Regions from separate parts of the Homo sapiens genome. Here region 2 is linked to region 1. The links come from fine-mapping of genetic effects on gene expression. Tissue or cell type: whole blood. Region 1 holds a variant in brackets; the other region holds the start of a gene. All regions are shown on one strand. Distances are from middle to middle.

Evidence for each region.
Region 2: CCNG2 starts here. The variant in region 1 is fine-mapped to the expression of CCNG2 in whole blood (TOPMed, PIP above 0.99).

Annotation. Positions count from the first base shown.
Region 1 is chr4:77,125,147-77,128,054 of GRCh38, reverse strand. No RefSeq gene overlaps it. Among named protein-coding and RNA genes, the nearest start is that of CCNG2, 31 kb to the left of the region's middle. The variant T/C (reference allele first, on the strand shown) is at 1,593.
Region 2 is chr4:77,155,696-77,158,603 of GRCh38, reverse strand. It overlaps CCNG2 (cyclin G2), which reads right to left and starts at 1,397. Exons shown (of 8, transcript NM_004354.3): 1 at 1,098-1,397; 2 at 1-71. The coding sequence starts at 71. LOC101928864 (a long non-coding RNA gene) reads left to right here and starts at 540. Exons shown (of 2, transcript XR_244659.5): 1 at 540-2,908. RefSeq lists silencers at 1,089-1,198, 1,229-1,298, 1,719-1,838.

The DNA of each region.
Region 1 (2,908 bases):
TGACCTGATTCTTCCTGGACACCGAACAAGAACTCGGGTGTCAAAAATGGCAGGTGCAAGAGGCTGTCACCCTGACCCTTCACTGAGCTGTTAACACTTAAACGTTCATGGACTGCAGACTGAGTGAAATAAGCCACTCTAGTTCCTGCCCACAAAGGGGGTCAAGGAGATCAAGGAAACATCCTGTCTCAATAGGAAATATTGGGGTATATAAAAACTTTTACAGATCTGTTATAGATCCTTCCCTAGACAATGTGTCTAGGAGACTTATCTATGACTTACAGCAACACTTCTTGTCTTAGGTTGGGTTTTGTAGAAGCAGAGCCTCAGGAAGGGGTTCTAGTGTCTGTACTTTGAGCGAATGCTCTTTAGAAAAAATCTGTAAGGAAAGGGAAGAGCCAGATAAAAAGGAGCTGAGCAAGGATATGGTTCCAGGAAAAGTCTGGGTTGGGACAGAAGAGTGTTGGAGAGTAGAAACAAGTTGGTCCTTGGTCACCCTTGGGGAGGAGGGGGGTATAATGTCTCAGGAGCCTCCAGTGAGGTGGATCCATTTAGCCAAAGTCAAGCCTCTGGAGAAAGTCACAGCTATAAGCTGTTGGCCCAGGCACATGAGCAGCTGAAGGATGAACGGCCCAGGCTATAAGGGGGATCTGGGCTAGGCAACAATAATGTCTAACACACTGTGGTTTGTTCTTCTTTTTAATACATGATAGTGAGAACTTCATTTTGCATATTCTTTGTATCTCCAGTACTTACCACCGTGCCTAACATATGGTAGGTTTGTAATAAATTGTTTCATTTATTTAAATTACATATTGAGAGCTACTTATCAAATCTACAAAACAATTTCTTAAAAGAGCCATGTAAATTCAGATTTTATTTTGTACTCTTGCTAAATAACATTGTGATGTTTTCCATCATACTCTGTGTTACCACACCAGCTGCTTCTATAATATATTCTTTTCTGCATACCAGTTGTAAAAGAGGAAGGAAGTGTGATCTTGTGGTGAAAAGAGTAGCTTGAGAACCCAGAGATCCTAGCCTTACACTTCTCTTATTGGAGGCCCAAGTGAAGTCACTGGACCTCTCAAAGGTCCTACAGTGTTAGGAAAGGGGAATAATAAATCCTTAAGTGGTCTGTTTTACTTCAGAATAACTACATCTTTCATACTTTTTATGTTAAATGTTTTTGGCCGGGCACGTTGGCTTATGCCTCTAATCCCAGCACTTTGGGAGGCTGAGATGGGGTGATCATCTGAGGTCATGAGTTCAAGACCAGCCTGGCCAACATGGTGAAACCCCGTCTACTAAAAATACAAAATTAGCCAGGCATGGAGTGCCTGTAATCCCAGCTACTTGGGAGGCTGAGGCAGAAGAATTGCTTGAACCAAGGAAGTGGAGGTTGCAGTGAGCTGCGATTACGCCACTGCACTCCAGCCTGGGCGACAGAGCAAGACTCTGTATCAAAAAAAAAAAAAAAAAAAAAAAAAAAAAGAGAGAGAGAGAGAAAAGAAAAGAAAAAACTTCATTGCAGACTTTACTCTCCTGGGCTGACGGGATCCTCCTGCCTCAGCTTCCTGAGTAGCTGGTAA[T/C]ACAGGCATGCACCACAACACCTAGCTAATAAAAAAAAAAATTTTGGCCAGGCACTATGGCTCACAACTGTAATCCCAGCACTTTGGGAGGCCGAGGCCAGTGGATCACCTGAGGTCAGGAGTTCAGGACCAGCCTGACAAACATGATGAAACCCCGTCTCTACTAAAAATACCAAAATTCGCCAGGCGTGGTGGCACATGCCTGTAATCCCAGGCTTGGGAGGCTGACGCAGGAGAATCGTTTGAGCCCAGGAGGCGGAGCACCTTCCTGCTGAAGATAGAAGTCTGGAAGTTCTGATGTTTACAGAACACGTTTCTGGAATCTTAGAATACTGAGATATTGGGCTTGGCACACCCTGCTGTGGATAGGGAAGAGGAGCCTAAGATGAGCTCATTTCTGCATATCTGCCTTAATGCACATGAAAAAATTGGCCTCATTCGGTATAGATATACATAAAGGAAAGGCAGAAAGGAACTGAGGTTGGAGTCTCATAAGGTTACTACCAAAGTAACCGTATTGCTTCAGTGAGAGAGCACAGAGCCTTCTGAATGCCTCTTTAACACTGTGGATTTCATCAAACTTTCTCCTAGACTTAGAGAAACTGTGTGGCAACCACTTTCTCTCTGTCTATAATCTTCAGGGAACCATGCATGTCCACAGAGTGGGGAGCTGGATTATGTCCAAGGAGCCCTATTTTTTGGAGGGAGAGGGATAGGTTGCTCAAAATATTACAGTATACTGAAGGTATGAAATCAGAAAATTGGGGAATAGAGACCAATGAGAAAAGCACAAAGATCTTTTTGCATAGGATATATAAGCCCAAACACTCGTAATGAAATTAATAGCCTAACAAAAAACATTTGCTCATCAATTACATATAAATTAAGCTATGAATCAATAAATGCTTTCATAACCATGAATTATACCAGGCATTTACCTCATGAATAATCATCTGGCTCCATCAGAGCTGACAAAGTTTGGACTTGGCAGAAAAAATAAAACAATTTAGAAAGAGAGTTTCTGAAGTTGACTCTGCATGTGTGTTTGTATTTGCACTCTGAGTGTAAATAACTGCATATGTGATGTGGGAGGAAAAGCTGGCATGGGGGAGGTGGAGATAAATAGGTATGAGATACTCTGGAAGCAAATAAACAGAATATTCACAGACCTCTAAAGATAAATCTTCCCAGCTGGGCACGGTGGCTCACGCCTGTAATCCCAGCACTTTGGGAGGCCAAGGGGAGCGGATCACAAGGTCAGGCGTTCAAGACCAGCCTGGCCAACATAGTGAAACCCTGTTTTTACTAAAAATATA
Region 2 (2,908 bases), 31 kb before region 1:
TAGACGTTCAACAACCCGAGAAGTTGGACCCCTTCATGACCTGCCAAGTGCTCTGCCCCCAAATCCTTCATCTGCAGTAAAGACACCACACAGAGAATGTAATCTGGGGGTAAGAGGGGTGGGGAAGCGGGAGAAAGGGCTGAGGCCAGTACCTCCAGCAAGGGTCGCCCCAGCACACCCCGACAAGGAGCGGGTGAAGGGACCAGTCACGTCCGCCAGAGCCCCAGGGCAATCCCCACCACGGCCAGGGAGGTGTGGCAGGGGGAGGAGCCGTGGTCAGGTCCGCCGGCCAGCGCTGGGTAAGACCGGCCAGCCCTGGCCTCTTGGCGTTTCACAAACAGGAAACTGTCCGCGGGCGCCGGCGTCCCCTCGGTCTGCCCCACCTGAAGTCGCGCCAGGGAGGGCCTTCTGCCCAGGGGACTGCAGTGTGGCGAGCGACTGCAGCGGGTCCCGGGGATGGGGTGTTGCACAATAGGGGGGAGGGGAGGGAGAGTCTCGCGACTGAACAAAGAAGCGGAGGGAGGAGACTCCCGAGCCCCGCCCGCCCGGGGCGCCCAGCTGCAGAAGCCCCTCTCGGAGAGTCCCGCCCCCAGCTTTTCCCGTCCGCTGCTGCAGCGCCGATTCCGGACTTACCCGAGAGGCGGATACCCCCGTCCCAGGAGCCCTGGGGTGGCGCGGCACACCCGGCTACGGTCCGGGGAGAGAAGTCCAGTCCAGCCCGCCCGCCCCGCGCCCGTAGGGACAACACCCGTCCACCCACTGATGCCGGGGCCCCACAACTCTGCAGAGCCCCGGGGCTGTCAATTCGAGAAGCACCACGCCAGCAAGTCCCCGTGACAACACGAGCGGGGGCGGGGGGCACCGAGGCGGAGACTGCCCTTAACCTAGTCGCAACCTCCTTCCACCCCACGAGCATCTATCTGTCCATCGCGGGCGCCAGCTCCCCCCGGGGCTGGGGCTGAGGGCAGCACCCTGGTCGCTCCAGCGGATGAGGAGCAGGCAGCACCGAGGCACTCGCATGGTACCAACCTCCTCAAAGCCCACAGTCCCCACCACGAACAAAGAAACCCACGGCGGCCCTGGGCGGGTCCACTCACCGTGCCGGAGACGCGCCTCCACCCGCCCGCGGCCTCGCGGTCCGCACGGACTGGGCGCAGCGGGGGCTTCCAAACCTGTCTCGCAGGTCGGGGACCCACCGCCTCAGCGGTGCCCCCGGTCCGGCATCCGACCCTTCCTCCCAGGCACCGCCGCCTCGGCCTCACAGCCCCGGCTCCATCCCGCTCCCCGCGCGCCCACCCTCCGCCGCGGCGCAACGCCGGCCGCGGAAGACCAGCCCACCGCCGCACCCCCGCCGCCTCAGCGGAAACCTCCCCGAGCCCCTTGTTTTTGTTAAGAGTTTCGACGCCCCCAAGGGGGCGGGGCACGTGACTCCCCGCGGAGGGATCCTGCACTTCCTCCACGGACTTTAAAAAAGAGTCCCGCCCCTAAGCTGCCGTCTCGAGCCTCTCTCGCGGCCTCCCTAGCTCTCCTTGGCTTTGCCGAGCCAGTCCTCCCGCCTGGCGCTAGGGCGGAGAGCGGAATCTGGGCGTCGGGCTTATTCCGCGATTGATCTGCGTTGGGGAACGGGGGAAGACAGAGGGGCGGAAGGAGATCGTTTCTGGTCTCATTACGCCTTTTAAAGGTCCCCGATTTGTTTTGTTTTCGCTGTTTTGAAAAGTCCGCCCAAAGTAGCCGGCTCTCTGATTGGATGCGGGTGGGGCGATGGGCATGCTGAGGACCTGATTCACCCTCGAATCTGGATTGGCTAACTTATCAGTCTTGGAGCCCTCTGATTGGCTTTCTCCGTAGCCTGAGCCTCTCTCTGCCTTGGGGCCTTAGCAACTCCAGGGTCTGGATTGCGCATGCCTGGGTGTGCAGCGGAGAAGGTATTCAGTTACCTGCCCTGCGGGGCTGTGCCTTCTCGCCTGGCTGCCTCCGCCTTTCTTGGGGGAATGTCACGCTCGCGGCGCTTCTCCTAACAGCTAACCTTTGTGACAGCCTTTTCAGCCACGGGAGAGTTTTCTACATTCCTTCTTTATTTTGTCTTGGCGTTCCATTTTGCAATAACCCACCAAATTATTATAACATTGTCGGGGCGTTTACTAAAATATTCAATAAATGCTACAAGTTTGGGTATTTGCTTTAAAATTTTACAGTCCAAGAGAAAAAAAAATGGAGAAGAGAGGTGAAATAAGATAGGCAAAAAGTTGAGGGTCGAAGCTGGGTGATGGGTACTCGAGGCTGCATTACAGTATTCTTTCTAGTTCTGTGTCTTGGAATTTTTCCATAATTTAAAAAAATTCAGGAGGGACTGAAGGAGGGGCTTTTCAATAAAAACTTAGCACGCTGATGAGGGTACGTAAACATCTAATAATTACGGCGTACCTCCAGAGGTTGTAGTGCTGTTGTTTTAATGAAGACTCCCAGAGCTTCTTGGTCCTTGGTAACCCATAAATTATCATTTATTGTTCATTATAATTAGCGTTGTTATTATAGGCGACACGTCTCCCAGGACGGGACAAAAAGCAAACAAACCAGGTGCCTTAGGCCAGAGACACTTTCACACGGAATATCAATGGGGCATGTGGTTGACTGCCCTGGAACATTTATTTGTTTACTCTCTCCCTCCTAAATTAGAAAATACCATATTCGTGAGTTCTAATCTACATAATCAGATAGTCCCTGGGAAGAGATTTCTCCTTTCTGTTCTTCTATGTGTTTTCTGTGAATTATTTTGTTACTTGTGAAATATGGGAAGGCACACAACATAGCTTTGGCAGCGCTCTTCTTTGCGGAGCAGCTAAGGAATTTTAAAACTAGGTCCCTTTGCATATTAGCTCGGACTAAACACAGGCATCTGTTTGGAGCA